4 linked regions of the Homo sapiens genome follow. The protein of the gene in region 4 interacts with the protein of the main gene of each other region in a pairwise test. Each region holds a gene or a part of one and is shown on either strand. Other genes may lie near its edges.

The links.
Region 1: the proteins of TRIM54 (region 4) and KIF9 interact in binary tests that used the Homo sapiens proteins (3 or more experiments, as listed by UniProt).
Region 2: the proteins of TRIM54 (region 4) and SPG21 interact in binary tests that used the Homo sapiens proteins (3 or more experiments, as listed by UniProt).
Region 3: the proteins of TRIM54 (region 4) and CCDC87 interact in binary tests that used the Homo sapiens proteins (3 or more experiments, as listed by UniProt).

What each region holds. Positions count from the first base shown.
Region 1 is NC_000003.12:47,244,632-47,252,054, forward strand, and holds part of KIF9 (kinesin-like protein KIF9), read right to left. Parts: intron 5,996-7,423; exon of another isoform or gene 5,886-5,995; intron 3,456-5,885; coding exon 3,387-3,455; intron 2,847-3,386; coding exon 2,742-2,846; intron 1,622-2,741; coding exon 1,566-1,621; intron 881-1,565; coding exon 790-880; intron 294-789; coding exon 160-293; intron 1-159. UniProt on the Homo sapiens protein: Essential for normal male fertility and for progressive motility of spermatozoa.
Region 2 is NC_000015.10:64,986,915-64,995,053, reverse strand, and holds the start of SPG21 (maspardin), read left to right. Parts: upstream 1-5,139; 5' UTR 5,140-5,389; intron 5,390-5,583; exon of another isoform or gene 5,584-5,648; intron 5,649-8,139. UniProt on the Homo sapiens protein: May play a role as a negative regulatory factor in CD4-dependent T-cell activation.
Region 3 is NC_000011.10:66,590,042-66,598,069, forward strand, and holds CCDC87 (coiled-coil domain-containing protein 87), read right to left. Parts: upstream 3,023-8,028; 5' UTR 2,975-3,022; coding exon 425-2,974; 3' UTR 135-424; downstream 1-134. Other genes in the region: CCS (copper chaperone for superoxide dismutase), read left to right, coding at 3,221-3,259, 3,601-3,673. UniProt on the Homo sapiens protein: Plays a role in spermatogenesis, where it is important for normal sperm head morphology. Also required for the acrosome reaction and thus normal male fertility.
Region 4 is NC_000002.12:27,277,745-27,285,600, reverse strand, and holds the start of TRIM54 (tripartite motif-containing protein 54), read right to left. Parts: upstream 3,173-7,856; 5' UTR 2,870-3,172; coding exon 2,702-2,869; intron 1-2,701. Other genes in the region: DNAJC5G (dnaJ homolog subfamily C member 5G), read right to left, coding at 5,386-5,435, 7,269-7,413, 7,586-7,847. UniProt on the Homo sapiens protein: May bind and stabilize microtubules during myotubes formation.

The sequences.
Region 1 (7,423 bases), on a different chromosome or scaffold from region 4:
CCCGGGCCCCACAGACTTGCTAGTATTGGCAGCAGTGACGTCCATTGTGCCAACCCAGTAGCTGAGACACCAGGGGGAAAGTGGGAACAGTGCACATCCTCCCATGCACCCACCGAGGAGGGCCAGCTGCTGAGGAGGCAGAGCGGCAAGGTCACTCACCTGAGTGGCTCTTTGAATGTCTTCTTGGACTTGGCTTTCTTCCCAGGTTTGGTAGAGAAAGGGGCGACTCCGAGTCCAAAGTTTTGTCCTTCAGGCTCACCCACTAGGTGGCCATCAACATCCACAAGCCCCGCCTACATAGAGAGGCCAGCCAAAGGTCTGTGAGTTAGATTAAGGGCTTGGACCCCTTGGGGACCCACATGTATATGGCCCAAGGCTCAGGGTGGACATGTTCACCATACACACCAAGGTTTGACAGCTGCTGATGCCAGCCTCAGGCTGTCCCCTGTAGAGCGGTCCCTGACCACTCTGCCAAATGTCCACTTTCCACATGCACCCCCTCACCAGTATGGCACCTCATTCCATACTCTGGGGATCTTAAAGCTTATTTCCAACCTAATTCCAGGAAATCGTCTTTAATATTATTATCCATGTCTCTACCTTATGGAAATTATTTTTAATTCAAAAGTGGTTTACTCTTAACACAGGTCACCTGTGTTCATTCTGGTGTTACCTTTATCTGTTGCAATCCTAGCTCTGGTTTAATGCATTAATACTTGCTGGCTCTGCAAAGGTCTGAGGATGGGAAATCTGAGGTGAGTGCTGTCGGCAAGTAGCAACTATGCTTACCTTCTGGATAGCAGAAATGGCTGCAAAGTCATTCCTGTCAATGAGGGTGTACTTCCTGCGCAAAGTGGACTCCACTTCCTGTTCCTGTTGGCTTGGGAGACAGCAAGAGAGAACAGCTTGTACCTGGGGCCATGCTGAATCCACTGGGGCAAGAACCAAGTACTGGGGTTAAAAGTCATATGGGTGAGGCCCCTTGTGTGGGGCCACACCTTCATCATGAACCAGACCAGACAAAAGGACAAAGGACTCACTTCCCCCTGCCCCATTGCATATACCCACTGTCCGACCCCCATACCCACAAGGGCTACCTTATGTCATGTGTGTCTGCTCCAAGATGACACTTGATAAGGACCGTAAGCTTCACTTGGGACCATGTGGGGTTCTGTCTTAGGTTCTGTCTCTAAGAGGCCACTTGGAATCACATGACCAGCTTTAGTGACACCACCTAGCATAAGCTGCTCAGACTATGGGTATGTTTGCACCCAAATAAACCACAAATGCCTCCTGAGGTGGGAGTGTGTGTTGCAATATTCACAAGGTGAATATTCACAATGCCCTGCTCTGGGCACTCTCAGAGCTGGCACTCCATAAACACCTCCTGTCCAATTAATGAACTCACTGAATATCCACCAGGGACCCAGGCATGCCCCCAAGGACTCTGATTTGGCTCTTCATCCACAAGCAAGAAGAGGAGCTCTTGGAGGCAAGTGCCCAGATGGCAGGAGATGAAAATGGCAGCCTGATGTAGGAATGAGGTAGGGGTGGGGGTCTCTCACCTCAGAACCACCCGGAACTGGTTGAACACCTCCTTGATCTGTCTAAGGCTGATTATCTGGAGGGAAGACAGCAAGGCAGAGGTTAGACCAAGGGCACCTCGAGGGACCAGGGGGCATCTATGTTAGTAGAGAAATCAAGACCCCTTGGCTGACCCCTGGACCATCTGTCTCGAGAAGAGGACGTGTGCACACAGCCTCTCAGCGAAGTGGCAGCCAAGCCCTCCTCCAGAGCAGAGAAACACCTGATTAATAATTTTAAAACTAAGTATTTGCTGAGGCTATAAAAACCACCTTTTCGAAGTGGAGACCTCTATAAAATGAAATGATTCTATACCTTGAAAATACCTTCTAAAGGTTTTTTTTTTTTTTTTAATAAAATGTACTTCTCAGCTTTCTCTTACTTCCAAAAGGTTCTGCCTGCTGTCTTCAGATGGAGCCCATTTATGGTCCTGTCTGCATGGGCACAGACACACACACGAGGCTGGAGGAAGGTTACTGGCCTCCCCCCAGCCTAAAGCCCACAGCATTCCCCTTGATCAAGGGTTAATTTGGGACTGCCCCTCCTGTGAAGGCCAGAAGAGTCCATCCCTTAGTTGTCCCAGGCCTGCTTCTCGGAGCTGCCCACAGTAACAGCCAGGGGGGTCTGCCCATGTCTCCAAGAAGAGGGGTTTGATGGACTGCACTGTGAAAACAGGATGCAGCCTTCCCCCTGAGGACCCTTCCTTGTGGGGTGGTTTCCCCCTCCTTGGCCCACTCCAACATGGGCCCTGGGGTCTACCTTGTAGACAACCAGCATGACCACCATCCTTCATCAGCTTCATTCTGCGGACACAGTCAAGCACCCCAGGTGCAGCAGCTCAGTTAATCCCCACTCTGTTTCCCTCCCCACTAGGCAGGTGAGGCCACTGAAGTACACGAGGTTGAGTATTTTGCCAAGGTCACTCAGCAAAGAGGCAGCTGAGCTGGGATTCAATCCTAGAAAGCCTGGCTCTAGGGCCTGTGCTTGTGCCCCTGAGATGAGCTGAAGGGACCCTGACATCAAGAGTCCAGCACCACCCTCCACCCACTGCACCCATTCACATGAGGCTCTGAGGCCAGCAGAGCATGCGTTGGGGTGTGCCCAGGACTGGGAGGCCCAGGCTGGCTGAGCATAGTGGTCACAGAGGGGTTCCTTACGTCGATCTCGTCCAGTGTCCCCTCCAGGTACCTCCGCACCTGGGAGTTGATCTCAGCAATCTGGATTTCATCCATGGGGTCATAGGTCACAAAGGTGCGGTTGGTCTTGAAGGAGGATGAAGAACATGTGGATAAGCAACAAGAACCTGAGCCCACAGGGGAGTGGCAGGGGCCATTCTGAGAGGCAAAGTGGGGAGGCTGGGCACAGGCCCTGGCTGCCCAAGCTGGCTCCTTCCCTTCATCATCGGGTCCTGCCAGAGGGCCTGACACAACAGGCCAGGTGCTTGGGTCAGAGAGGGATAATGGGGTCGGGGAGGAAAGGAAAGACCCTCAGACATGGGTCCTGCTACTCCAGACAGAGGCTCTGCTGGCTGAGTCCCAGCAGACTCTGCAGCATGAGAAAGGCGAGGACGGGAGGCATGCGCTGCCTCTGCCTCGAGGCCCCTCAGGACCGTTGGAGGACTCTGCTCCCAACCCCTGTCCTCATGGACCCTTGCTGCTGCCCCTTTCCTGCCACTGAGCCTGCCCCCCAACCCCGCCCACCATTGGCCTTGACCCATGATGCTGTCTGCCCCTAGCCCCAGTCCCTCTAGTCACCCCCTACCCCAGCACCTCTGCCCTCCTTCTTTGCCTCTAGCCTCTTACCAGGCTGTCATGGATAGCCAGCTCCTGCTTGAGTAGTGCTAGTTCCTTCTCCAGGTTCTTGACCATTCTCTGCCGGGAAACATGGTAGGGTGGGGGCCGACAGGAAGGATCATCAGAGAAGCTACCCTGTCTCTTCCACAGCAAAAGTACAATTCCTCATTCTGTGCCCAGACATCCTGGCCATTCCTGGATCCACAGGGTATGCTTTCAGCTTCTGGTGATTCCCTCCCGACTGGTGACTCTTCCCTAACTGGGGTGAGTTTAGGGTCTGGGAGGACCTGAACAGTCCCCTGGCCTTTGCTACTGCCAGTAGAAGAGACAGCACAAGCCACACAGCCACCTCAAACCCCAACTCCCAGGGGCCCCAGGCTCCTTCCAGTCTACCAGGATAATGGCCCTTTTGGTGCAGCCTACAGACTCCAGAATGCTTTCTTTTTTTTTTGAGACAGAGTTTTGCTCTTGTCGCCCGGGCTGGAGTGCAATGGCATGGTCTCAGCTCACTGCAACCTCCGCCTCCCGGGTTCAAGTGATTCTCTTGGCTCAGCCTCCTGAGTAGCTGGGATTACAGGTGACCGCCACCACACCTGGCTAATTTTTATAATTTTAGTAGAGACAGGTTTTCACCATGTTGGCCAGGCTGGTCTCGAACTCCGGACCTCAGGTGATGCACCCACCTCAGCCTCTCACAGTGCTAGGATTACAGGCATGAGCCACCATACCCAGCACCAGAATGCTTTCTTTTTAGAGAAAGGCTCTTGCTCTGTCCTCCAGGCTGGAGTGCAGTGTCACCATCATGGCTCACTGAAGCCTCAACCTCCTGGGCTCAAGCAATCCTCTCACCTCAGCCTCCTGAGTAGGTCATGCTACAGGTACACACTGCCATGCCCAGCTAATTTTTGTAGAGACAGGGGTCCTACTATGTTGCCCATGCTGGTATCACACTCCTGGGCTCAGGCAATCCTCTCGCCTCGGCCTCCCAAAGGGCTGGGATTACAGATGTGAGCCACTGTGCCTGGCCTCCAGGATGCTTTCTATGCATGGTTATAACCTCATCCTTTCACCCTCATCCTCACCAACCACTGCATGAACATGTCACCACTCCCCAATAATAATCATGTATGTCACCTCTAATTTTTTTTTTTTTTTGAGATGGGGTCTCGCTCTGTCGCCCAGGCTGGAGTACAGTGGCGCAATCTTGGCTCACCGCAACCTCTGCCTCCCGGGTTCATGTAATTCTCCTGCCTCAGCCTCCTGAGCAGCTGGGATTATAGGCATGTGCCACCACGCCCGGCTAATTTTTGTATTTTTAGTAGAGATGGGGTTTTACCATGTTGGCCAGGCTGGTCTCGAACTCTTGACCTCAGGTGATCTGCCCGCCTCAGCCTCCCAAAGTGCAGGGATTACAAGCGTGAGTCACTGTGCCTGGCCTCACCTCTAATTTTTTGCTGCTTACAAACAATGCTGCAAGAACATTTTTGTACTCATATATTTATGTCCTCATAGATTTCTGTAGAATAACACAGTGATCTATGAGGCTTTTGAGATCTGCCCCCATTACCTCTTTTCTGCTTCTCTTCTCTGGTGCACTCCAAACACTTCCACAAATTGGTATGCTTCTGCCTCTGCATTGCTTGTCCGCTGCCCTGGAATTCTCTTCTCCTAAGTATTTCCAAGACTCATTCACTTACCTCCTGATAATCTTTGTTCAAAAGCTTCTAAATTAGGTGCACCACAATTACTCTTTAAAATTGTAATTCCAGCCAGGTGCGGTGGCTCATCCCTGCAATTCCAGTACTTAGGGAGGCCAAGGCAGGTGGATCATCTGAGGTCAGGAGTTCGAGACCACCCTTGTGAAACCTTGTCTCTACAAAAATTACAAAAATTGGCCAAGCATGGTGGCATGCGCCTGTAATCCCAACTACTAGAGAGGCTAAGGCAGGAGAATTGCTTGAACCCGGGAGACAGAGGTTGCAGTAAGCTGAGACCGCACCATTGCACTCCAGCCTGAGCAATAGAGCGAGTCACTGTCTCAAAAAAAAAAAAAATTGTAATACCTTCTCCACCCCTGCAACATGCTTTAAAAATCTCTAATTTTTTTTCATAGCACATTTTGCCTTTTAACATATTCTAGATTAGTGCTGTCCAATAGCACTTTCTGCAATTATTGAAATGTTCCATATTTGTGCTGCCCGGTATGGTAATGATGAGACAAATACAGCTACTGAACACTTGAAATGTGGCTAGGGTGCCTGAAGAAGTAATTCTAATTTTAATTAAATAGCCACATTTGAGTAGCAGTTACCGTATTAAACAGTGAAACTTTAGAACTTACCTATTTATTGTGATTATTATTATGTATCTCCCCTATTCCCATCAGACTGCAAGCTCAGAGATTTGTGTTTCTGTTCATGCAGTCAGGTATTCCAAGTGCTTTAAAAAGCACTTGGCACATAGTAAGCACTCCATAGATTTTAGGTAAGTAAATAAATGATACTTTTTTTTTCAGATCAGACGGGTAATGTGCCAATGTCGTAACAAGGTTCAAGGGTGGCACATCTCACACAAGCGTATGAACACACAATCATCACACTCATGAACTACAAAAGGATCATAAATGACACATTTTGAGGAGAAGAATCGCTAAGTCATTTTATACTCGATATACCATCTGAGTGTCTTCCCTAAAAGAGGCACAAGGAACTTCAAGCTGAGAACCCTCGCTGTGAACAATAGGACTTCCTTTAGTTGTCATAAAAGGGCCACTGGAGGGAGCCCCTGACACCTGGATCCTGGGACTGGTGACCAAAACTGTGACCAGTCCACTGCCCCACTGGCCCTCTCCCAGACCAAAGGCCTGCTGTATTCTAGCCCTCATCCAACCAGGTCACCTGGGCACTGAGGCCCAACTGCCCTCACATAGCAAGGGTCAACAGAACCCCTGGCATCCTGATGGCTCTGTGGCAATTCAGGCACAAAGCCTGGGACCCAAGGCATGTGACCAGTGTCCAGATCCTGGATCTGCCCCTCTGGAAGCCCCACAAAGGTCCCCTTCAGGTGTGGACTTCCTGTGGGGTCAACAGGAGAGGCTTGCTGGCCAGTCTCACCTGTCCACATGCCATCCTTCTCCCAGCTCTAGAAAATGTATCATGGCCCAGCTACAGAAAGTTCGACTGAGCCATCAGGGTCCTCCAGCTTGATGACTCTGTTCAGTGAGGCACAGCAGAGCCAAACTTACATGTCTGGGCCAATCAGAAGGTGATGTAGGAGGCTGGGTGCAGTGGCACATGCCTGTAATCCCAGCACTTTAGGAGGTCAAGGCGGGCAGATCACTTGAGGTCAGGAGTTCAAGACCAGCCTGGCCAACATGGTGAAACCCCATCTCTACTAAAAATAAAAAATAGCTGGGTGCGGTGGCACATGCTTGTAATCCCAGCTACTCAGCAGGCTGAGGCAGGAGAATGGCTTGAACCCGGGAGGCAGAGGTTACAGTGAGCCAAGATTGCACCACTGCACTCCAGCCTGGGCAACAGAGTGAGACCCTGTCTCAAAAACAACAACAACAAACAGGGACATTTTTTAGATAGGAAAAAAATGCCTTGGAAACAGCACAGACTCATGTAAGTTTCCTAATAGGCATTTTCATTATAAATGTAATGAGGATAATTCAGAGAATTCTGCTTAAGCTGCACATCAGGCTGTGGGGCAGCTCTTGGGGCAGGCAGTTTTCCGATTTTCATCCCACTGCAGCTTGCCAGTGTATCTTCTCTTGGCAGAGTGGAGTATACTAAGTCTCTCCCTGCTGTCTGTTTATGCCTGAGGCTCACAGCCCTTTACACCACTTCACAGAATCACCGACTGGCAGAGTGGGAGGGTCACTGCAGGTTATCAGGCCAACTTCCTTGTTCACAGAGGACGACCCTGAGGTTGAGAGGGTCTGAGCAACTCGCCACAGAGAGCTTGTGGAAGAGGTGGATTAGGAACCCAGTCTTCTGCCTTATAGCCAGCCCCATCAGCCAAAGAAATTCTGAAGAAGCAAT
Region 2 (8,139 bases), on a different chromosome or scaffold from region 4:
AATGCCCATTATATGCAGGTACTATGCTAGACAATTTCAAAAATATTTTATTTTAGTTACTATTTCATCAGTCTTATTTTTTTTTATTTTTATTTTTTTAGAGACAAGATCTCACTATGTTGCCCAGGCTGGAGTGCAGTAGCTATTCATAGGCACAATGATCACACACATAGCCTCAAATTCCTGGGCTCAAGTATCCTCCTGCCTCAACTTCCCAAATAGCTGGGACTACAAGTATGCACCACCATGTCCAGGTAATCACTGTCTTTTTTTACCTCTAAGATTTATAAAGTTTTCTAAGACACCACAGATAGAAGCTATCTTTTGTAGTAAAGAAGTGCAGCTCTTGCTTTCCACTAATTTTTATTGCTGCTCTTCTACCAGAAGGTAGATTATCCATTGTTATTTACATTAATTATTTACATTGTTTACATTGTTGAAACATTGAGATGCTAGGTTGACAGATGATACAAAATATGTGGTACCTTTGCTTAGAAACTTTTATTCTAAAAAGTTAATGGACAAACGTTAACTTTTCTGAGAGATTAAAATACTGCTTCCGTTAAATAAGCATTTTTGTGTGTAGGCTGTTTTTTTTTGTTTGTTTGTTTGTTTGTTTTGAGACGGAGTCTTGCTCTTTCGCCCAGGCTGGAGTGCAGTGGCACTATCTCGGCTCACTGCAATCTCCGCCTCCCGGGTTCACACGATTCTCCTGCCTTAGCCTCCCGAGTAGCTGGGACCACAAGCGCCCGCCACTACACCCGGCTAATTTTTGGTATTTTTAGGAGAGACAGGGTGTCACCGTGTTAGCCAGGATGGTCTCAATCTCCTGACCTCGTGATCCACCCACCTCGGCCTCCCAAAGTGCTGGGATTACAGGCATGAGCCATCGTGCCTGGCCTGTTTTTTTTTTTTTTTTAAAGTTTGATTGGAAGCAAGAAGGAGGAGGAATATTATCAGAGAAGGGCAGCTTTGAGGAAAGACTGCTGTAAAGATGTAAAGATCCTTATTTTTTTTTTTGAGATGGAGTTTTGCTCTTTTTGCCCAGGCTGGAGTGCAATGGTGCGATCTCGGCTCACTGCAATGTCTGCCTCCCGGGTTCAAGCGATTCTCCTGCCTCAGCCCCCTGAGTAGCTGGGATTACAGGCACATGCCACCACCCTGGCTAATTTTGTATTTTTAGTAGAGACAGCGTTTCTCAATGTTGGTCAGGCTGGTCTTGAACTCCCAACTTCAGGTGATCCACCTGCCTCAACCTCCCAAAGTGCTGGGATTACAGGCGTGAGCCACCGCGCCCAGCTGTAAAGATTCTTTGACAAATCTCTTATAAATTTATAAAATCTAAAATCTTAGAATTGGAAAGAACTTACAGATAATTTAGTTTAGCCTTGGCCTCATTTTACAGAGAAGGAAACCAGACCTAGCAGAGGATATGTTTTGCTCAAAGATAAAACTCAGGTTTCTGAACTCCTAGATGACAACTAATACATTATTAATTAAAAATAACTATATATAACTTCTGTTTGATAATGCCTTTAGGTAGTAACCTCTAAAATAGCCACATCAGCATTTTTCTAAGCCAGTTCCTGAATACCCACTTTGTGTCTGATTCCTCCAATCCAGTGCAGTATACATTTTACATAGACTTGGTCTGGCAATGAGGAAAGAGCATTCATTTTCAATCTTGGGTCTCAGCATAATTTGGTATATAACACTGCAATCGACTGTACCCTGTAAAGCTTTAAGGGGATGGTATTCCAAGAATTAGTATTAGTCTGAAAAAGCAAGTGTTTTGTTTCTCTTTCACTTTTTTACACATCCGTGGTTCCTGGGGGTAAAATAAATGTTTTCACTCTAATGGGTGCACTGGAGGGAGGCATTCTAAATGGAAGGAAGGCATATACAAAAGCCTAGAGGCTTCCTGAGACATCAGGAGGTGTTTGGGGCCCTTCAAGCAGTTGGTATGACTAGAGCACTTTGGCCCCACAGAGATCTGAGTCAAGAGCCAGACCTGCTCTACTCTGCATACCTTGAACTTTAGCTTGAAGGCAGTGGGGAGCTATTGAAGGATTTATAGCAGAGGAATTACAGAAATATAGTTGCTTTTAATTATTATTAATATTATTATTATTTGAGACAGAGTCTCACTCTGTCACCCAGTCTGGAGTGCAGTGGCATGATCTGAGCTTACTGCAACTGCCGCCTCCCAGGTGGGTTCAAGTGATTATCCTGCCTCAGCCTCCCCAGTAGCTGGGATTACAGGTGTGCACCACCACACCCGGCTAATTTTTGTATTTTTAGTAGAGATGGGGGTTTTGCCATGTTGGCCAGGCTGGTCTCGAACTCCTGACCTCAAGTGATCCACCCGCCTTGGCTTCCCTCAGTGCTGGGATTACAGGTATGAGCCACTATGCCTGGCTGCTTTTAATTATTTTGATCACACAGATAATATATGAATACATTTTAATATAAACTCAACTATTAAATCCAAAGTCAAAGTTCTTCACCACTCCCTCCATCCCCAGTTCCTCCTCCGAGGTAATCACTTAGCTGCTTGGTACATACCTCTCCAAACATTTTAAAAAGTGCATTCACAGCTGGGCGCAGTGGCTCACGCCTGTAATCCCAGCACTTTGGGAGGCCGAGGCGGGAGGATCACGAAGTCAAGAGATCGAGACCATCCTGGCCAACATGGTGAAACCCCGTCTCTACTAAAAATACAAAAATTAGCTGGGTGTGGTGGCAGGCACCTGTAGACCCAGCTACTCGGGAGGCTGAGGCAGGAGAATAGCTTGAATCCGGGAGGCGGAGGTTGCAATGAGCTGAGATGTGCCACTGCAATCCAGCCTGGCAACAGAGCAAGACTCCGTCTCAAAAAAAAAAAAAAGTGCATTCACTTATGTATACACATGCATAGGGATATTTCTGGATCTGGGATTATTTTGTGTGTTTTCAAACAAATATTATCCTGTGAAAAGATAAATTAAGAGGGACAGAGCCCGGGTTTGGGTAATTCTGAGAGCCAGCTGGCCATCTGTTTACTTTGCTTGGTGTTCACAGCATATTTTGTGAACATTCCAGTTTTTCTGTGAGATTCTCACAGATGAATTGGTGCTGTGGGAACCATCTGGCAGACCCCAGCCACAACAGCTGCAAATCCTTACAGCCATGTCTACCAGGTCAGCCTGCACTGGGACCTGCCTGAATCAAAAGTTTGCTGCCTGAATTTGTGCATTACAATTCAGCTGGAATTCACAGATATTAAATGTTCTTTGTTGGGATTAGGAAAGGGACAATGTGCTTGCCATGTGTTATGGAACAACTGAGGACACAAACATGACCATGGTTTCCCTTCCTGAAAGAAGTAAAACATTTATTATTTTTGGATTGGTCTACATTGTAATAAAAGTTGATATGTAACAAAACATATCTACATAGTGATTTTTTTTTATTGTCAATTGTCAAAGTTTACTACCACACTAACAGAACAATGACTTTTAACATACGGGTATATCCATAGATTAGGTCTCATTAAAGCTGTTACTAAATGGGGTCTAGGGATGGGGTCTAAGGAATACAGCTTTAGGAACAAATGTGGAAATGGGGATAGATTTATTTATTCCACTCATTAATTCATTCAATATAGTTTTTTGTTGGGAGCAGACAAGGTCTCTCGCTTTGTCACCTAGGATGTGGTGCAGTGGATTCGACATCTGGGCTTAACAGATTCTCCCATCTCAGCCTCCTGAGTAGCGGGGATTACAGGCATGCGCCACCACGCCCGGCTAATTTTTGTATTTTTTTGTACAGACAGGGTCTCCCAGGTTGCCCAGGCTAGTCTCGAACTCCTGGGCTCAATCAAGCGATCCGTCCACCTTGGCCTCCCAAAGTGCTGGGATTACAATCAATATACATTTAGTACCTATTATTTATGGGCTAATCATGTGCTAATGGACTGGTGGAATCACTCTATTCCCTTTGCTCTAGATTGAAGCTTCGAGACCACCTGGGAAAATAGACAACTAATGTAATGAATATCCATAACCAGTTTCAGAGACAACCAGTAGTTTGCAAGTTATTCCACCCATTAAACGATTCCAAATGTTGGAGAAAAGGCCCCCAACTTAAAATACTCCACGGAAACGTGCTCTATACATCTATGTGGTGCTTACAATAAAAGATGAATTCCTGCGACTGAGTTGCAACCCCGAAAGAAATGATTTAGAGAAAAAAAGAAAGAAAGAAAAAGGTAAGTATGTCACCGTGCTTTTGGAAAATGCTTTTGGGATTTGTCCAAGTTCTAGAGTGGAACCCAAGGCTCCTGGGCCAGGGGACAGAAGTGATAACTAAGTAGGATGCAATTTAGTTGGAATCTTCCCTGACCTTAATCCCATAAACAGTTGCCTAGGTAAAGGCAAAGTCTACAGGCCCTAAAACAGGGTACAAGCTTTCCCTAAAACATATTAGAGAGAGGCACTTTCAACAGGACCTTGTTGCAGGATCCCTAAAAAAAAAATTCAAAACAAGGAGATTTACATGTTATTCACCTTATCATAATTTCAGAAATATTTTACTAATAAAAAAGGAGTCGTGAAGTCTGGAACACCTTAAGACGTGACGTCTGCAACACCTTAAGAACAATGATTACAAATGTATTAATATTCTCTCTGATTTTAAGGGAAAAGTGATGAAGGAACAGGAAGATGGGTGGGCGTATGTTCCCAGAAATCCCCAGAACGTCAAAAAGGAAGCGGAGGCTTTGAGTGGAGGACTACGGAGAGCGTCTACGGTTGTGCCAAAGGAAAAAAAATGTTCCTAAGAAAAGAGTATACAAAGTTGTGTTCATCAAAGTCTGGAACCCAAAGGTGTCCCTCCAAAGCTGTACACGACAGAGAAAACGCGAACTGAAAGAAGAAGCAGGTCCCAAGGGGCCAGGCGCCTCCTCCACCTCCTCCTCCTCCTAGGTACGTAGGGCAGAACTAAGGCTGACCCAGACGTAACTCAGCCCTCTCCTCACGCCAGCCGCAGCCAAGCATCCCACGGAGCCTCCCCCCGCGCCCGTCGCCGTGGCGACCGCCGGGGCCACGCAGCACCGCCCCTTCCTCGCGACGTGGCCCCGCCCTCTGAGAACCCGGAAGCGGGAGTCTCGCGCCAGCTGAGCGGCGGTCGGGCGGGGGGAGCGCGGCGGCCCAAGCTCGCTCGGCCACGCGCCCCGCCCCCTCAGAGGCCGGCCTCCCGCACGCACCGCGCAGCCTGCTGTGCCCGTGGGTCCCGAGTGCTCCGCCGCCCGCCCCGACCCGGGCCCAGCCGCCTCCACGGCCCGCGCTCGTACTGGAGCGAAGAGCGGCCTCCTGAAGGAGGGGAAGGGACGTGGGGGCGGCCACGGCAGGTGAGGGTGGGCGAAGCCCTGGGAAGCGGCTGGGTGTGCGGTATGCGGGGTTGTAGGTGTGTGTGTGTGGCGCGTGGCTGCCTTGGTTGGTGTGACTTTGTGAGTGTGTTCTGAGTGGGCCGGTCCATGTGACCACGCACGTGATCACGTGCCCTTGTGAGTGTGTGTCTGGGGCCGAATCTGGGCTGTGGGGTGGTCGGTGTGCTTGTGACCCTGCCTTTGTGTGGCTGTCACCGGTGGGACTGGCGGGGAGCTGTGTGTGAGTCTCCAGCGGGAGGTGGGGGCGGCACAGGGCTTAACCGGGGCATCCTCCTGTAAACCCATCCTGGGGCTACACGACTGCAGCCCAGGAACATTTCTTTCTTTCTTTCTTTCTTTTTTTTTTTCTCAGCAAACTTTTAAGAACTGTGAGCAGAGGCCAGTAATTTTGGAGACAGGACCTCGGCCTGAAAGTGATAGATGTCTTTGTTGTTACTGAGTGTGGGCCAGGTGTAAGGTTTGTAAACGGGGGATGAGGAACAGAGCGGGACCGGAGTGTCTCATTTTTCCTCTTCTCGTTTTCCTGGGGAGTTATAAGTTAGACATTTATGCTGCTTCCTTTGTCTCCACCTACACTGGTTCAGCTCCTTTTGGCACAAAGATTCAACAAATTAAGGAGTAACTTTTTTTTTTTTTTTTTTTTTGAGACGGAGTCTCGCTCCGTCGCCCAGGCTGGAGTGCAGTGGCGCCATCCCAGCTCACTGCAAGCTCTGTCTGCTGGGTTTACGCCATTCTCCTGCCTCAGCCTCCCGAGTAGCTGGCACTACAGGCTCCCGCCACCACGCCCGGCTAATTTTTTGTATTTTTAGTAGAGACGGGGTTTCACCGTGTTAGCCAGGATGGCCTCGATCTCCTGACCTCGTGATCCGCCCGCCTCGGCCTCCCAAAGGGCTGAGATTACAGGCGTGAGCCATCGCGGCTGGCCACTGAGGAGTAACTTAATAGCTGTGTCCAAATTCCAAAAGCTTTTTTCCCAAGAGCATGAGAAGAGATGTCACAGATGTCAGGTAGGCACCTTTTCCTCCTGTAAGGTTTAGAGATAATGCAATGAAGAAAAGAGGGATAGATCTCCCCTGAAGAGATCTAAGAAAAGGATAGCTGTGTACTTCTGTGGTGAGGGATGGAGACGTGCATTAAAAAGCCAGTTGCATCTCCCAGAGACTCTCAGCTTCTAATATTTTGTTATGGCTAGTATTTATAAGCACAGATTTTCCACAATGCACATCAACTATAGATTGAAATAAAGTAGCAGAAACCTCTGACTAATTATGCTGGTTATGTGACTTAAACATTGATAAAGGTGATTTTGTTGACTTTAAAGTGGCAGGTTCTGTTGAAGCCATGAGGGATAGGGGCATAGTCACAACTGGCAGGTTTTTTTGTTTGTTTGTTTGTTTGTTTTTTGAGACAGAGTCTCACTCTGTCGCCCAGGCTGGAGTGCAGTGGTGTGATCTCAGCTCACTGCAACCTCCGCCACCCAGGTTCAAGCAATTCTCCTGCCTCAGCCTCCTAAGTAGCTGGGATTACAGGAGCCCATCACCGCGCCCAGCTAATTTGTTTTTGTTGTTGTTGCTGTTTTGTTTGTTTTTTTGAGATGGAGTTTCGCTCTCGTTGCCCAGGCTGGAGTGCAATGGCGTGATCTCGGCTCACCGCAACCTCTGCCTCCCGGGTTCAAGTGATTCTTCTGCCTCAGCTTCCTGCGTAGCTGGGATTACAGGCATGTGCCACCACGCCTAGCTAATTTTGTATTTTTAGTAGAGACGGGGCTGCACCATGTTGGCCAGGCTGGTCTCGAACTCCTGACCTCAGGTGATCCACCTGCCTCAGCCTCCCAAAGTGCTGGGATTATAGGCGTGAGCCACTGCACCCAGCCACAACTGGCAGTTTTTATTGTCCAGCAGCACAAGGGCCAGAGAAGACAGGGAGTCCACAGCACACCCTGAAGAGGGCTTTCCTTAGGCAAGATTAAGGCTAATATTGTGGCTCTTTTCCCACCAGCATGAACAGGTGCTTTTGTTTTTGTGAAGAACAAAATCATGAGAGATAAAATCAGTTTTGAGCTCATGGTCCACATTCTTTCTTATTCAGTACTGACCAGTTTGGTCACAATCTCAGTTAACCTTTGCCATATACAGAATATTCCTCTTATGATTTGGAAAAGTATACCCCTTTGGTGGATGAAAGAGAGCTAGGAGAACAAACTTTCCTATTCATACCACTCACAGCTGTTTTCCCTTTGCAGCAGTGATCTTTTTTTCACTTAGACGTCAGTTGGTCAGATGCAACATTTGGTATCCATTTTACCTTTCATGTACTGCCAAACTAGCACAAGTGTTAAAATTACTTGTCTCTACAAAAATTTAGTCACAGCGGAGTGGAATCTCTCCATCTTGTAAGATTACTTTTAACACGTTGGCATCCTGAGGTGGTTGTGAATTATTCTGAAGACTGTTGGTAAGGAACATCTTTCTATTTACTGCTATGGGAAAGAAGAGGATGACCGCGTGAATATGTGTGCCTGTGTATGTGTGTATTTGTATGGTGGTTTGGTTTGTGCATTGCAACTGATTTCAAAGCTATGAATGATTTATCCCATTTGGTGACTCTAGAAGCACACTTTCTGGCTTTAGTTAGCTAAGGTGTTTTATAAATCTATTGAGTAGATGTTATTTGCTAAACATGTTTTTATTTTCCCTCCTTTAGAATAGATT
Region 3 (8,028 bases), on a different chromosome or scaffold from region 4:
CTTCCTAATAGTGTTTGAGAACTAAAAGAGGTGACAATTTAATGTAGTGTGATAGGAATGCTAAAGTGAGTTGTTCCAAAGATCACCTTTGCCTCTGACCCTTCCCACTACAATTAACTCCAAGGTCTCAGTTCTTTTGATATAGGAGATTTGGCTTGTATTGTGCAAGGCTTGACATAATGGGACTACTAGGCTTGGGGATTCTTTCATGAGAATTTCACTAAGAAAACAATAGTTTTAGTCTCAATCCCTTCATAGTTGGAAGCATAATGTTCCTGAACCCTCCACTCCCAGATATAGACAAATATTTCTTCTTCCAAAGCAGTAAAGAGGTCTAGATGAGCTGCTGGCCATTTAGGGGTGAGGGAGGCATTTGAGGGCACTGGGCCTGGTCAAGGAGTAATAGGGGTATTCCCAGGAGCTACTAAAGGCTGGCTGCTGAGCTCCTGAACAGGGTTGACTGGTGGGGATCCTTCAGGGCCGAGACCAGGTGGCGAACCCGCCGCTGCTGTTGCAGCCAATAGAGCATCTCCACTTTGTCACTCTTCATCTTGTCCAGGTAGGGCCGCCCCTTGAAGATCACTGGCTCGCCAAAGATTAACTCTATCTCCTCCAGGAGGGAAACCAAAGAAGACTCCATTAAGTTGAGCTTCCTGTGGAGATGGCTTCGGACCTGATTCTCCTCCAGGAAGTGACTGGAGCTCAAGTTGGTCTTTTTGAAGAAGCGGTTGGGATTGGAAGCTTGTCCCTCAAACCACTCTAGTCTCGCCAGCAATGCCTCCCGCAGCTGAATGGGCTTCAGGGCCCGCTCCCAGGCATTCACCAATGAAGGCAGCTGCCTCAGGCGGGCTTTGGAGCTATATTTAATGGTCATGTCCACCTGGTCCTTGTCAGGGACCTCAAGCACAGACCACAGTTGTTCCAGATGCTTCTGCAGGCTCAGAATTTTGTGGGGTTCTCCCAGGTGGGGTGTCTTCCCAGCTCCTAGCCTGTGCTCTAGCACAGTGTTCCAATCCCACTCTCCTGGCACAAAGTCTGGTTCTTCATCTTCTAGCAATGGGGGAGGGTGCTGAATCTCTAGGGACTCTCTGGCAGGGGCCACAATCTCCACAGGAACCTCTTCTTCATGCATTTGAAAGATGACATGAAGGAAATCTGTTTCATGGTTGGTGAGGTACTTGAAGTAGTCATCCACAGACAAGGTGGTTTTCCATGAGTTCATCAAGGAGGCCTTGTTTGACCACTTCTCCCAGCTTTTGGTAGCTTGGAGTGATGGGAGGGAGGGCATCTTCTTAGTATTGGACTGTAAAGTGTTTGCTCTCTGGGAGTAAAGTCCAACCAGCTCAGGGTTGATGATTTGAGGCTGTTTTTCTTGACGTAGAAAGGCTGAGGACAGGAAGGTCGACCAGTCTTTATCTGCTGCAGGCTCAACTAGGGGCCCTTGATCAAAATGTAAGTGGTCAGAAGAGACATGGCTCATCAACTCCTTGTAGACCTCCCTGGTAGTACTGCCAACAAAGTTATCAATATCCATTTTTTCAATGGCTTTGGGATCCAGTTCACCAGCCAGATGGTTATACAGGGCTCCGGCCCCCTCAATGTGGAAAGAGTCTAAGAAGTTTCTATCAGAGACCCGTACGGCAGCCGCCTGGACCACGACCTCATTTCTAAGCTTCAAAGTAATGGTCACTGGCTGTGGGTGAAGTGGAAAGGATTTGGGGGGCTGGGGGTCCCACTGCCCAGAGGCTTCTTCCTCCTGGAGGTTCCTCAACATCTTCTCCAGCTCCTCCAGGCGATGCCCTGCAGCTGGGTGACGGGTCACAACCCCCAGGAGAGGAGGCAGGCCTGAGTCCAGTGGTGGGTAGCGAGTCCCCTCCAACTTCATCTTCTTTATCAACTGCTTCAGATCCTCAGCCACGATGAGCCCAGTCAGCTCTGGTTTGCTCTCTGTAGCCAAGACCAGCGGGGTTAAGGGGCGAGATGGGAGTGGAGGAAGGCCCAACTCATCTGCCAGCCTCCAGCCCTCACGCAGGGAGGGCATGGATTGGCCTCTCCGGAGCTCAGGGCAGAAAGGCGAGGGGGAAGCCCTGCTGGTGGGGGCCACAGGATAGCTGGGCAGCGACACCATCTGTGAGGAACTGATGTCGATTTCTCTCTTCTTTCCTATGGAGGGCAGCCAGTGGAAAGGCTTTTTCCTCTTCAACCGAGGGATGGACTTCAATTCCTTCACTGGATCCATCCTTCCTGGCTCATTGAGAAACTCTGGTGGACGGCTGAGTTGGATGAGGTAGTTCAGGTTGAGGTTAGAGCACTGCACTTGGGCGAAGCCAGTGCTGTGAGGCCAGGGGATAGGGCACAGCTTGAACGTCCCAGCGGGGCAGACAGGGTGCAGCTTGTCCACATCCCCAGAGGCCTGCTCTGCCCTCAGCAGGGCCTGGAAGTCGGCAAGCAGGCCACGGTAGACGTTGGGACTAGTAAGGAAGAGTGTGCAGTCCCTGGCGAGGCTGGCGGCCAACCGGGTGAGGGTGGCTGATTCAGTGAAGACCCCCCTGGGAGTCGACATGGTCACCAGCAGGTGCAGGTAGCGCAAGAAGAGCTGCTCGCTGCTCAGCAGCACGTAGGCCTCGAGCCGCTTCCGCAGCTTCTGGTTGTTTTTGTGGCTCAGACTAAGTTCGGCGGGCGGCTCCCGCCAGCTGCACTTCAGCTCGTCCAGGATGACCTTGATGAGACGTAGTCGGGCCTCAGGAGGCACTCCCGCTGCTATCCCGCTGCCGGCCAGCAGCTTGGCCACCTGGCTGCACAGCGACGCCACCGTCAGCTTCGCCAGAGGGAAGGACTGCAGAATCCGGCCCTCCTGCGGGGGGCGCTTCTGAGGCTCTGGGGACGTCGTCCTAGTGGGGAAGAGCGACAGCGGACGCAGCAGCCGGTGGTAAAACCGCTGGAGCTCAGGCTCGGGCTTCGGGGGCTCCATCATAGAGCCGGCGGCCGCCACCGTCCAGGAACAGAAAGCCGAGGGGTTACTAAGGCAACCAGGAGCCCGACGGCCCGAGTGCGCCTGCGCGGCCGCCACCCGGTGGCTGACGAAGCAGGGCCTTGCGTGCGCACGCACTAGGAGGAGGAGTTAAGGGTGGCTTTAGAGGCTCAGTCCCCGCGACGCCGCGCTGGTTGGTGCTCCTGCGCCGGAGGAGTTCTGCGTCTCGGGGTGGTGACTGGGTCCAGAATGGCTTCGGATTCGGGGAACCAGGGGACCCTCTGCACGGTGAGGGTCGAGGCTTCGTGTGGAGCCTCGCCGGGCAGAGAGCCTCGGCCCCTGGGATGATCGTTACCTTGGGAAGAGGAGAAGGAGTGGGCACTTGGGTTGGGGCCTGGGGCCATGGGATGAAACTAGGGTGCGAGGGTAGCAGGGGCCCTGCGTGAGTGTTGGGGGGTGACTCCCATGGTCCTGGAATGGTCATGAGAGATCATGAAGAAGGTGCTTGAAGAGGGGTTAAGTGGGGCTTGTTCCCAGACCCTTGCGGTGGTCATAGGGTAGGTGGTGAAACAAAGTCATACCAAGGCACTTCCCCAGCGATCATCGGTTGGTCCCTGCCGCCCTTGCAGTTGGAGTTCGCGGTGCAGATGACCTGTCAGAGCTGTGTGGACGCGGTGCGCAAATCCCTGCAAGGGGTGGCAGGTAAGAACAGGGTAAACTTTTCTGCAGACAGTCCAGAAGCCTCTGGGAGGGACCAGGCGAATCTATTAGGCGAACCCTACTCCCATTTTACAGATGCAGAAAGTGAACCCCAGAGAGTGAAAGGCATGTTCTCAGAGTTACACACAGACCTGGAGGCAGAGCCTAGAGTACAGCTGTCCAGCTTGCCCTGACAGATTCTAACTGCCTGTCTTGTTGTCCTGAACCTCAGGTGCCCCAGAGACTGAGGAGCTAGGCTGAGGGAGTTCCTGGGAAAACAGGCAGTTTTTGCTTGGGAAACAACATAATCTTGACAAAGCAAACAGCAGCTCAGGCCCTATACCATCCTGGGTAGCTTTCTATACCACTGGGTGTGGTGGCTCATGCCTGTAATCCCAGCACTTTGGGAGGCCGAGGTGGGTGGATCACCAGGTCAGGAGATCGAGACCATCCTGGCTAACACAGTTAAATCCTGTCTCTACTAAAAAATACAAAAAATTAGCCGGGCGTGGTGGTGGGCGCCTGTAGTCCCAGCTACTTGGGAGGCAGAGGCAGGAGAATGGCGTGAACCCGGGAGGCGGAGCTTGCAGTTAGCCGAGATCGCGCCACTGCACTCTAGCCTGGGCAACAGAGTGAGACTCCGTCTCAAAAAAATAATAATAATAAATAAAAGGCCAGCTGGTCTGGAGGTGACCTGGCACAATGAGAAAGATCTGGAAAGGTAGAGCCACCAGCATGGCTCTGGGAACTGGCTTCCTTTGATTCTGTTAAGTGTTTATCCAGGCCAGGCTCAGTGGCTCACGCCTGTAATCCCAGCACTTTGGGACACCAAAGTAGGTAGATTGCTCAAGTCCATGAGTTTGAGAGCAGCCTGAGCAACATGGCGAAAACCCTCCTCTATAAAATATACAAAAATTAGCTGGGCGTCATGGTGCACTCCTGTAGTCCCAGCTACTGGGGAGGCCAAAGCAGGAGGATTGCTTGAGTCCAGGAGGTGGAGGCTGCAGTGAGTTGGATCGCTCCACTGCACTCCAGGCTGGGTGACAGAGTGAGACCCTCTCTCAAAAAAAAAAAAAAAAAAAACAAGTTCACCCAGTCATTCGGCAGGTATGGACCAGACACTGGGGCTTTTTAGGGAGAAGAGTTCACATGGGTATCAGGCACATCCCCTGCACTCAGGTGGAAATGAGCATGCAAGCGTTGCCTGGATGGCATTCGCAGAATGCTTCGTGGAAAGAGCAATGGTGAGAGGGAATGAGATAAGATGGCTTCTGAAGCTGGGACCCTGGTAGTGGTGGACTCTGTAAAGTGATTAGGGGTATGAGCTCTAGAGTTCAAACCCCCTCTTTGCCACTTAATGGCACTAAGACTTCATGCATGTTACTTTTTGTGTCTCTGTTTCTTCTGTGTTAAATGGGGGATGATAATAGAAGCTAATCTGGAGGATTGTCCTGAAGAGTAACCGAGTTAATACAAAAAAAGCATTTAGAAAAGTCTTTGGCATGTAATAACAGCCCAGTAAATCCTAGGGGATTATGAGAAGAAGGGCTTACAGGTGGTGATCTGGATGGAAGGAGGCTGGAGGGGACAATGTTGAAGCTGGGTTTGCTTAGACTACGCGTTTTGGGTGGTGAATGGGCCCTCCACTTCCTGTACTACTTGCTTGCGAGGAGAGCAGACAGCTGGCCTTTCTCTTGGACCCGGAGCAGTTTTCAGCCCTCAGCATGTTTCTTAGGCAACAGATAAAGACTTCTGGTGACTCTGTGTTTTCTGGTCCGGCTTGGCTTTCTCATGGGGCCAGGGAGGGAAGCTGTAGTTTTCTAGAATACACACACACAGAGAAAGAGAGTTGCCATCTCAGGAGGCCTGGGGGAAGGCCTTCTCAGGAGGTAAGCAGGAGGATCCCCCAGCCCAAGGCTCACCCCCTTGAATCTCTATCACTTGCCCTGGTGTTCTCTGTGGCCTTCTGTTTTCTCTCTCACTGGGCTCTGAGCCAACCAAGGGTGGGCCTGGCTACATTCCAGGGTCTACCAGTCTTAACTCAAGGAGCAAACTGAATGGCTGCTTGGCTAAGGTACCAGCCTCCCTCTTGGTTTAGACTCAGTCAATAATTCAGGAGGTACATAGTGACAAGGAACTTCCCACTTCAGGAGCAGAGAATCAGCTCTTCTCTGGAGACCTGAGGGTCTGGGAACCCTCCTATGCTGAGGCCTGTCATCAGGACATCTTATCTGCTATGTGTCCAAAACATACTTAGGCCTCCACACTGCTCCAGGCCACCCCACCTCTCCCTAGCCTGTGTAAGAACCTCATCCTTTGATGGGTTCCCCATTGCTTCTGTTGCCCCCTCTAATAGCTTTTGCACATAAAAGCCAGGGTCTTGTTCTGCTCTGTTGCCCAGGCTGGAGTGCGGTGGCACCATCTCAGCTCACTGCAACCTCCACCTCCCGGTTCATTTGATTCTCCCACCTCAGCCTCCTGAGTAGCTGGGATTACAGGTGTGCACCACCATGCCTGGCTAATTTTCATACTTTTACTAAAGATGGAGTTTTGCCATGTTGGCAAGGCTAGTATCGAACTCCTGGCCTCATGTGATCCACCTGCCTCAACCTCCCAAAGTGCTGGGATTATGGGTGTGCGCCACCACGCCTGGCCATCTGACAACTGACTTTTTTTTTTTTTTTTTGAGACGGAATCTCGCTCTGTTGCCCAGGCTGGAGTGCAGTGGCGCAATCTCGGCTCACTGCAAGCTCCGCCTCCCGGGTTCATGCCATTCTCCTGCTTCAGCCTCCTGAGTAGCTGGGACTACAGGCGCCCGCCACCATGCCCGGCTAACTTTTTAGTATTTTTAGTAGAGATGGGGTTTCACCGTGTTAGCCAGGATGGTCTCGATCTCCTGACCTTGTGATCCACCCACCTTGGCCTCCCAAAGTGCTGGGATTACAGGCATGAGCCACCGCGCCCGGCCGACAACTGACTTTTGAACTTGACCCTTGTGGACCTCACAGAGCTCCTGCCCTCACAGAGCTGGCGGCCTAGGAGTGAAACAGGATTGTAGTCAGTGCAATGTGAATTACAGGAGGGGGAGTGTGAGCTGCTACAGGACCACAAGGGGTGTGGTCCTAACCCAGCTTGGAGCCTAAGGGCTGCTTCCTAGGGTGAGTACAATATCTGGGTTAAGTGCTGGGGCTCTGGAGCTAGGCTGCATGGTCAGAGGTCCAGTTGCACAACTTACTACAGTGCGACTTTGAGCAAGTTTCTTCATCTTTCTGTGCCTCAGTTTTCTCATCTGTAAAATGGGGATCATTGTACCTAACTTAGAGGCTTAGTAGGAGTACCAAATATGTTAAGACAGGTAAAACACAGGATTCGCTCACCGTCCATGCCCAGTAAGTGTTAGCTCTACTAATGATGGCAATAGTCCCTGCCTTTTATGTGTGTAATAGCTTTATTAAGATATAATTCGGCTGGGCGCAGTGGCTCACACCTGTAATTCCAGCACTTTGGGAGGCTGAGGCAGGCAGATCATGAGGTGAGGAGATCGAGACCATTCTGGCTAACACGGTGAAACCCTGTCTCTACTAAAAACACAAAAAATCAGCTGGGCGTGATGGCGGGCACCTGTTGTCCCAGCTACTCGGGAGGCTGAGGCAGGAGAATGGCTAGAACCCAGGAGGTGGAGCTTGCAGTGAGCCGAGATTGTGCCACTGCACTCCAGCCTGGGTGACAGAGCGAGACTCCATTTCAAAAAGAAAAAAAGGCCAGGTGTGGTGGCTCATGCCTGTATTCCCAGCACTTTGGGAGGCCAAGGCGGGCAGATCACGAGGTCAGGAGATTGAGACCATCCTGGCTAACACGGTGAAACCCCGTCTTTACTAAAAATACAAAAAATTAGCCGGGCTTGGTGGCGGGCGCCTGTAGTCCCTGCTACTCGGGAGGCTGAGGCAGGAGAATGGCGTGAACCCAGGAGGTGAAGCTTGCAGTGAGCCCAGATGGCGCCACTGCACTCCAGCCTGGGCGACAGAGTGAGACTCTGTCTCAAAAAAAAAAAAAAGATATAATTCATAGGCTGGGCAGCTAGGCACAGTGGCTCACGCCTGTAATTCCAGCACTTTGGGAGGCTTGCTTGAACCCAGGAGGCAGAGGTTGCAGTGAGCCAAGATTATGCCACTGCTCTCCAGCCTAGGTGACAAAGCGAGACTCCATCTTGAAAATAAAAAAAGATATAATTCATGTACTATAAAAATCACCCATTTAGGCCAGGCGCAGTGGCTCACGCCTGTAGTCCCAACAGTTTGGGAGGCTGAGGTTGCAGTGAGCCGAGATTGTGCCATTACACTCCAGCCTGGGTGACACAG
Region 4 (7,856 bases):
TTTTCTGGAAGTATTCCCAAGAAAGTTGGTAATAGTTACTTCTATCTGGTGAGACAACTGAGGGTCTGAGGTGAATAGCAGATTTGCTTTTCATGATATGAACTCCTATACTGCTTGAAAACAGTATGTTTACATGTTACAAATTCTAAGTGATATACTGGTATCACTTTGATAACCGTTAACTTTCTAGGCAATGCTCTAAGGGTATTCTTCCTAAGTGGTTTGAAGGTAGAGGAAAAGTCCTATTCTTTCCAAAAGTCCTATTCTTGCCCCATACTTAGAAAACAGACAATCTGATTATGCCTACAGTTGTCAAAATGTGGAGGCAATGTGCGAAAAAACTAAATATGCTCATCTTTCAGAGGGAGATCTACTGAGATATATTGAGATACACAGATCTAAGTGCAGCTGAAGAACTGGGTCAGCCTCCCACCAGGCCCTCCCAAATAAGCAGCAAGGGATGAGCTGTTCACTCTTCCTCCTTGGAGGGCCCAAGGGTGCTTTGCACCTCAAAAGATACACCACTCCAGATCCACAGAGCCACCCCAAAGCCCTGGGTATCATGTTATCTCCAAATATTCTGTACAGGATTTGCCCCAAGCCATTCCAAGGTCTCTCTGAGCCCAGATCCGTATTCTAGAGCTTTCTGGAACTGAAACAGTGTGCTTGGATAGAGAGAGTTGACTTAAATAAGCAGGTCACTTAAACACATTCTAGCCTCCATGTATGGGGCCTATTCCTCTGCCAGATGACAGAGGGACCCAGGAATGCACTTGGCCCTTCTGACCACTTTTCTACAGGACACATCACCTTAGCTTTCAAAACTTCTCTTTGCTTTCACACATTTCAAGTTCCAGTGTGAGGATGTTTCACTGTAAGTTCATGAGAAAGGATGGCAAAATCTTTCTGCCATTTCCCTCCTAGGCATCTCAGCCTGAAGGATGTTCAGAGTTACTTAGACCAAGGAAAAACCAAGATGGTGGGCAAAGCATTGCCTCTCATGTAGGACTTCATGCCCAGGACGAGGAGGCACAGCATTTGGTCTAGGCCCCCCGAGAGGGAAAATCTACTGGCTCTGAGATACTCTGGAGCTGAATAATGGCAGGTTTGGACACATAAAGAATAGGAGAGGGAATGGGTCTCAATGGGAAGATGGCAGGAGAGACCACAGAGTGCTGGTCTTCAGTGAAGGTGGCACAGAGCAGACACACAAGGTGTGGGTCACAGGGTACATTGTGGGATGGCCTGACCTAGCCAGCCCATTCCTTTCCAAAACAAGCTGCCCCAAGGAACTTAAAAAGGGAAGTATTTTCTTGGTTAGGTTAAAAATCACTTGTGTTTAACACATTTCCTCATCATTTCTGACACAGATGAAGAATACTTGTTTGGGATGTTCCATGTCACTGACACACATACTAAACCAGCCAGCTCTGGTCTATTCGGGGTTTGTTTTTGTTTTTGTTTTTTTGAGATGGAGTCTTGCTCTGTCGCCCAGGTCAGAGTGCAGTGGCATGATCTCGGCTCAAGGCAACCTCCACCTCCTGGGTTCAAGTGATTCTCCTGCCTCAGCCTCCTGAGTAGCTGGGACTACAGGCGCCTGCAACCACGCCCGGCTAATTTTTGTATTTTTGGTAGAGATGGGGTTTTACCATATTGGCCAAGCTGGTCTTGAACTCCTGACCTCGTGATCTGCTGGCCTCAGCTTCCCAAAGTGTTGGGATTACAGGCGTGAGCCACTGCACCTGGCCATATTCAGGGCTTTTACTTAACGGCAAGGCCGTGTGTGTGTGTGTGTGTGTGTGTGTGTGTGTGTGTGCGCGCGTGTGTGTGTGTGTGCCTTTGCCCCTCACTCTCCCTGATCTCTGTTCCATTTTATAGCCTACTAGAACCTCCCCAGTAGCACAGGAAAAAAAAAAAAAGCCCACTTATAATCCATTCTGGTATATGCTGCTTTTATTTCTAAACCAGTGGCTATACTAGTATCTGTGAATTTGATTAGCTCTGCTTGGCCCCATGACCACAGATAAAACAAAACTGGCTGGACTTCTGAGAAGTAAATTTCTTTGCCTTCTCCCTGCTTGTCAAGTGACCTCAGTAGCTTTTAACCAGTAGGCCTCTTTACTGAACAATCTGGAGGGTAACAGGTATGAACTCAAGTTGGGGAGAGTTCCCAGTCTCCTGCCCACTATGTCTAACTCTGTCACCCACAATGGATGCCTTCAACTTTCCTTAAATACAAATAGTTTTACTGCCATTATGGAGCTTTCTCACAGGGTCGGGTTTTGTTTGTTTGTTTTTTAACGTTTCATTATCTCATTAATCTTTTCTCCGTATTTTCCACAATGCTCTCGAAGTCTGAAACTCCAAACTGGAATGCAGAGTCTGGCACAGGCTCTTATAAAGCCCGGTGTGGGATACCCTCCCTCCCAGTTTCCACAGGGTCTACTTTCCTTGGTAGATCCCAGCACTCCAGCTGCCGTCTATGCACAGGCTGTACCTGCCAGCCTGCAGGGCAGCTGCTGACTCATGCTTGCTCTGGGATTTGCTTGGACCCCAGCCCTTCTGCTCTCCAGCCACAACAGCCACCACCCACCTCAGAGAGCACTCTATCCATCACCTTCTGGGGTCTCAGCTCTGACCTGATCAGTCCCCCACAGGTCTGCATTGCTTTACCTGGCCCTGCCCCGTCCCTGGCACCCACCTGGAAGACGTCGTTGGCACATTTGCGGCACAGGTTGTGTTGGCAGGGCAGGATCACCACTGGTTTGGAGAACATCTCCAGGCAGATGGGGCAGATGAGCTGCTTCTCCAGGTTGTCCATGCTGTGTGCATCCCCTAGCAGCGGCTTGAAACCCACTGTGAAGTTCATCCCCTCGGTGGTCGTGCCTGGCCTGGGCCCTGCTCCTGGCCTTCACTCACTGCCTGTAGACCCTTCCTCGCTTAGATGGCCTCTGGATTCCCTTCTGTGGCTCACTCTTGAAATAGCTCTGCTTTCTCTCCTGTCCCTTTAACAACTTGTCTCGTCCCAGATAGCAGTCTTCGGACAGTCTCTACTTTCTGCTCTGCACCCTCGCCAGGCTCACGTAGTTTTAGCTATCCCTCTCTCTCTGTAAAATTCTCCTTTTGTTTCCCAAATGACTCTCTCTTGTTCACTCTGTGGGTAGCACTGTTTGTCCCTTACTCCCCAGAGAGCAGATTAATTTTACTGTGGGGGTTGGGAGACAAGGGGCATCTGCATGACATTCCAATTCCCAATTTAGCTCATGTAAGGCGAGCCACAGCTGTCATGGAGTGAGTGACCCTGACTCACTCAGGAATGGGTGACTCCCTTGAGCAAGGGCAGGGGTGAGTGCCACTGCTTACAGTGAAAGGTGGGTCAGCAAAGGTGCTGCCCTCTCACTCTGAAGGCTCCTCTCAGCCCGGGACCCCTGTTCTGGCTTGGGCCCTTCTTCCAGGACAGTGACACAGAATCTAAATCTGCCTGTGTGAGAGGCACCCATACATAGCTCAGGGTGGGAGGAAAGATCTTGCCAGACTTAGAGTCAGTAGCGGTTGCCTCCTCCACAGGCTCAGCCAGTGACCCTGGTCCTCCTCCTCAAGACTGTGTGATTCAGAACAGCAGCTCCAGGGACTACATCAAGCCTCTTGTCCAACACCTCTGGCTCATTTTTGTTCTTCCCTGGCCTTTTCTTATATCACCCTAGGAAAAGAAGCTCAAGAGGCTAGAAATGACTGTTGTGCCAAGGCCTGGACCTACCTATGAGCATGCCCCCGAGGAAATGTGGGATTCTGGTCCGTGAACACATCCCTGGAGCCACTCCAAGGACTCAAATTTGTTAGGAAATTGGGAGAAGGTGAGCTGGGCAGAAAGGACCTGAATGCCAGGGACCTATTTTGGGCACCCAGGGAATCAATCTCCAGGGAAATTTTAGAGCACTGACAAAGTCATAATCACAAGGCTCCGGGAAGCCTCTGACCCAGCTCCACAGTTGTCCAGGACTCCTACTCTCCAAGCCAGGCTTGCCCCACTTGTGAGCACTGGTCTTCTTTTTCTCCTACAAGTCTTCTCCACTTGATCTTAGGCAAAAGGCCAAGAAGCAATTTCTTTAGGCCTTTTTTCTCTACCCCAGACACAATTTGTCTTTTTTGGGCATAATATATGCCTTGGGATTGGATGAAAGCTCTTTTATTTACTGACATTCTTTAGCCTTTCTCCTAGTCCAGGGAGAGAAGTTTGAGGAATTAGTAGGCTGTGACCCTGAGTGGGTGGGAAATACACGGTGTGAGGAGGATACGAAACAGCAGCACAAAGAGGCAAGAGTGGGAAAAGAGTCCAGAAAGTACAATCTTTTCCAGATCACATATTTCATGCCCCTATTTTTAAGAACAAATTATATGTCAATTGGCCTGCATAATATGTGAAAAGGATGGAGGCAAGCTGGCACTGATGTTTGAACTTCAGTTAACCTACAGGACCAAGGCTAATGCATGCTGTGCTGGTAGCTGAAGTCCAAGGATAATCTAAAGATGGAATGACTACCCCTAAGCCTCAAATGCACTCGCAGTTTTCCTGAGTTGACTCATAGTGGCATGGAATGAGGCTGGCAATGCCAATGGCCGTGGGCACCAGAAGATGAAACCAACTCCATACAGGCGTTATTGGCTTAGGAATGAGGCTGATGCTAGGGGTTCTTGGTACACAGAGTTGCAACAAGGGAGAATTAATGGGTGCAGCAGCTCCAGGGACAGGATCCACCCTGCTCAGTTATCAGGCTCTTGGTGGTGATATCGCAAGGGGCTCAGGGATCCTACCAGCTGGCATTGGTTCCAATAACAAGGCAGACACAGGAAAAAGACTCTTCAGGAAAAATCTGCCACCACTGCCTGAGACCTCATAAGGGGAGGGAGGGGAGGGCTGCTTTCTGACGGAGTAAAATTGGGACTGCAACTGAAAGGAAGAGTAGCTGGGCAACCCCATACAGAGTTGTGGTACCAAGGGTAGAGGTGATGTCCTTACTGGGATCAACGTCATCAGTGCTTCTGAAGAGATTCTTGAGATCCTTATAAGAAGAGGGGTCAAATCAGGGTCAATGTCAGGACAGGGCTACTTGCTCCTCTCTTCAATGTGTCCAGGGGACTGGGCAGCAGAAGGCACCCTCACTGGGTCAGCACCTAGTGGCGGAAGAAGGTGGCGCTTTATTAATCAGAAGGAATAATTACCTAGAACTTAAAGCAAACCCCTACATGTAAGGATATAAACACATAGTCCATACTATAAGGATGTAAACTTTCTACTAATGACTCATCTGACGTTAGCTTACATGCTTTTCTTATCTGATAACTGTTGCTGCCTTTCGGTTTACATACCTCATCCTTCTTCATCTCTTAAAAATCATCTTCGCTATTTTCCTCGCTTCTAAAATCACATTTGGCTCCTATGATGGAATTATATATATGTTTACATATACAAACGTTTAGTAACTTTTCGTAGTGTACTGATGAGAAAACCGTTACCTTGCAGTTACTCATTAGCATCACCAGGTGGCGCTGGTGTCAAGTTCAATCAGCTTATAAAAGTTCATTTGGGGGGGAATGATCTCAGACTTTCCTTTTCTTTTCTTCCTCTTCCTCTTCCCCTCCCCCTCCTCCTCCTTTCCTTCTTCTTCTTCTTCTTTTTTGATACAGGGTCTCACTCTGTCACCCAGGCTGGAGTGCAGTGGCATGATCACAGCTCACTGTAACCTCAACCTCCCAGACTCAAATAATCCTCCCACCTCAGCCTCCCCTGTAGCTGAGACTACAGGTGTGCACTGCCATGACCGGCTGACTTCTGTATTTTTTTTTTTTTTTTTGTAGATACTGGGTTTCATGATGTTGCTGAGGCTGGTCTCAAACTCCTGAGCTCAAGTGATCTGCCCACCTTGGCTCCCCAAAGTGCTGGGATTACAGGCACAAGCCACTGCAACTGGCCCTTTCCTTTGAGTAGATGGAAAAAATTGCATCCCGCCAGGCACAGTGGCTCATGCCTATAAACCCAACACTTTGGGAGGCCAAGGCAGGTGGATCACTTGAGGTCAGGAGTTGGAGACCAGACTGGCCAACATGGCGAAACCCTGACTCTACTAAAAATAAAAAATTAGCCAGCTAATTTTTTAGTAATCCCAGCTACTCAGGAGGCTGAGGCAGTAGAATCGCTTGAACCCGGGAGGCAGAGGTTGCAATGAGCTGAGATCGCACCACTGCACTCCATCCAGCCTGGGTGACAGACTGAGACTACATCTCAACACCACCACCACCAACAACAACAAAACAACAACAACAAAAATTGCATCCTCAAATCTGTCTTAACCTAACTGTCCTCTCTAGACATACTCTCCCACCCCATTCCTTAGCTTAACAGGAGCTGACACTACTACCTTCAAACTGTCAGTTTGTCGTGTGATGCACAGAAACATATTGATCTTTTTTTTTTCTTCACTTTGTCCCAGTGCCAGACTTGAAGACTTGAAATTGTCATATTTAGGGATTAACCTGCCATTTTCACAGGTCTTTCTCACCCTCAACCATTTCTTTCTTTCTTTTTTTTTTTTTTTTTTGAGATGGAGTCTCACTCTGTTGCCCAAGCTGGAGTGCAGTGGCATGATCTTGGCTCACGGAAACTTCCGTCTCCCGGGTTCAAGCAATTCTCCTGCCTCAGCCTCCTAAGTAGCTGGGGTTACAGGCGCCCGCCACCACACCTGGCTAATTTTTGTATTTTTAGTAGAGACAGGGTTTCACCATGTTGGTCAGGCTGGTCTCAAACTCCTGACCTCGTGATCCGCCCGCCTCGGCCTCCCAAAGTGCTGGGATTACAGGTTTGAGCCACCATGCCCAGCCTCTTTCTTTTCTTTTCTTTTTTTTTTTTTTTTTTTTTTTTTGAGATGGAGTCTTGCTCTGTCTCCCAGGCTGGAGTGCAGTGGCGCGATCTCAGCTCACTGCAACCTCTGCCTTCCGGGTTCAAGCGATTCTTCTGCCTCCTCAGCCTCCCAAGTAGCTGGGACTACAGGTGGGTGCCACCATGCCCAGCTAATTTTTGTATTTTTAGTAGAGACAGGGTTTTACCATGTTGGCCAGGCTTGTCTCCAACTCCTGACCTCAAGTGATCCACCCGCCTCACCCTCCCAAAGTGCTGGGATTACAGGCATGAGCCATTGTGCCCAACCCCAATCATTTCTTTCATTCCCAATCCAGACATTTCTTACCTCACAGTCCCTGCTTGCAGTTCTCACCTGACCTTGGAGGCTGACTCTGGACATTCTGCTGATATTTTCTCCCACTATCCTGCTCAGGTGGTGGTTTAAGTGCTCCACAGCAAAAACAGCAGCAACAACAGAAACAGCAACAAGTGAGCAGAGTACACAGGATGACAAGTGTCTAAAAGGTAGGCGAGAATGGCCTCAGTCCAGCAGTTTTCTATATGACTGCTCAAGCTTCCCTCCCTCAATCCTCCTGGCACCCAGAAAATGAGACAACAGAAGCATTTGTCATAAGGAAAGGAAGGTCACCCTTCTTTCCTTATTCTTAAAGGACCTGGAGAATTGTGTACCTTGAACCAACAACTATTCAGAATAAAATAGTATCTGACGCCTTCTTCACCAAAGTGATCATACAGATATATTCCCAATGAGCCATGCTGGTCGTAAATTTTCCGCTTCTTAGAGTCGCTCAGTATGGCATGAGCTGCGTTGATCTCTTTGAATATTTCTGCTGCTTGAGCATTCCCTGGATTCTTGTCGGGATGATACCGCAAGGCCAGTTTCCTACCCAGGTGATACTCAAAAGGAGGGTGGGGAAGCAATGCGGAATGGCTGGGGAAG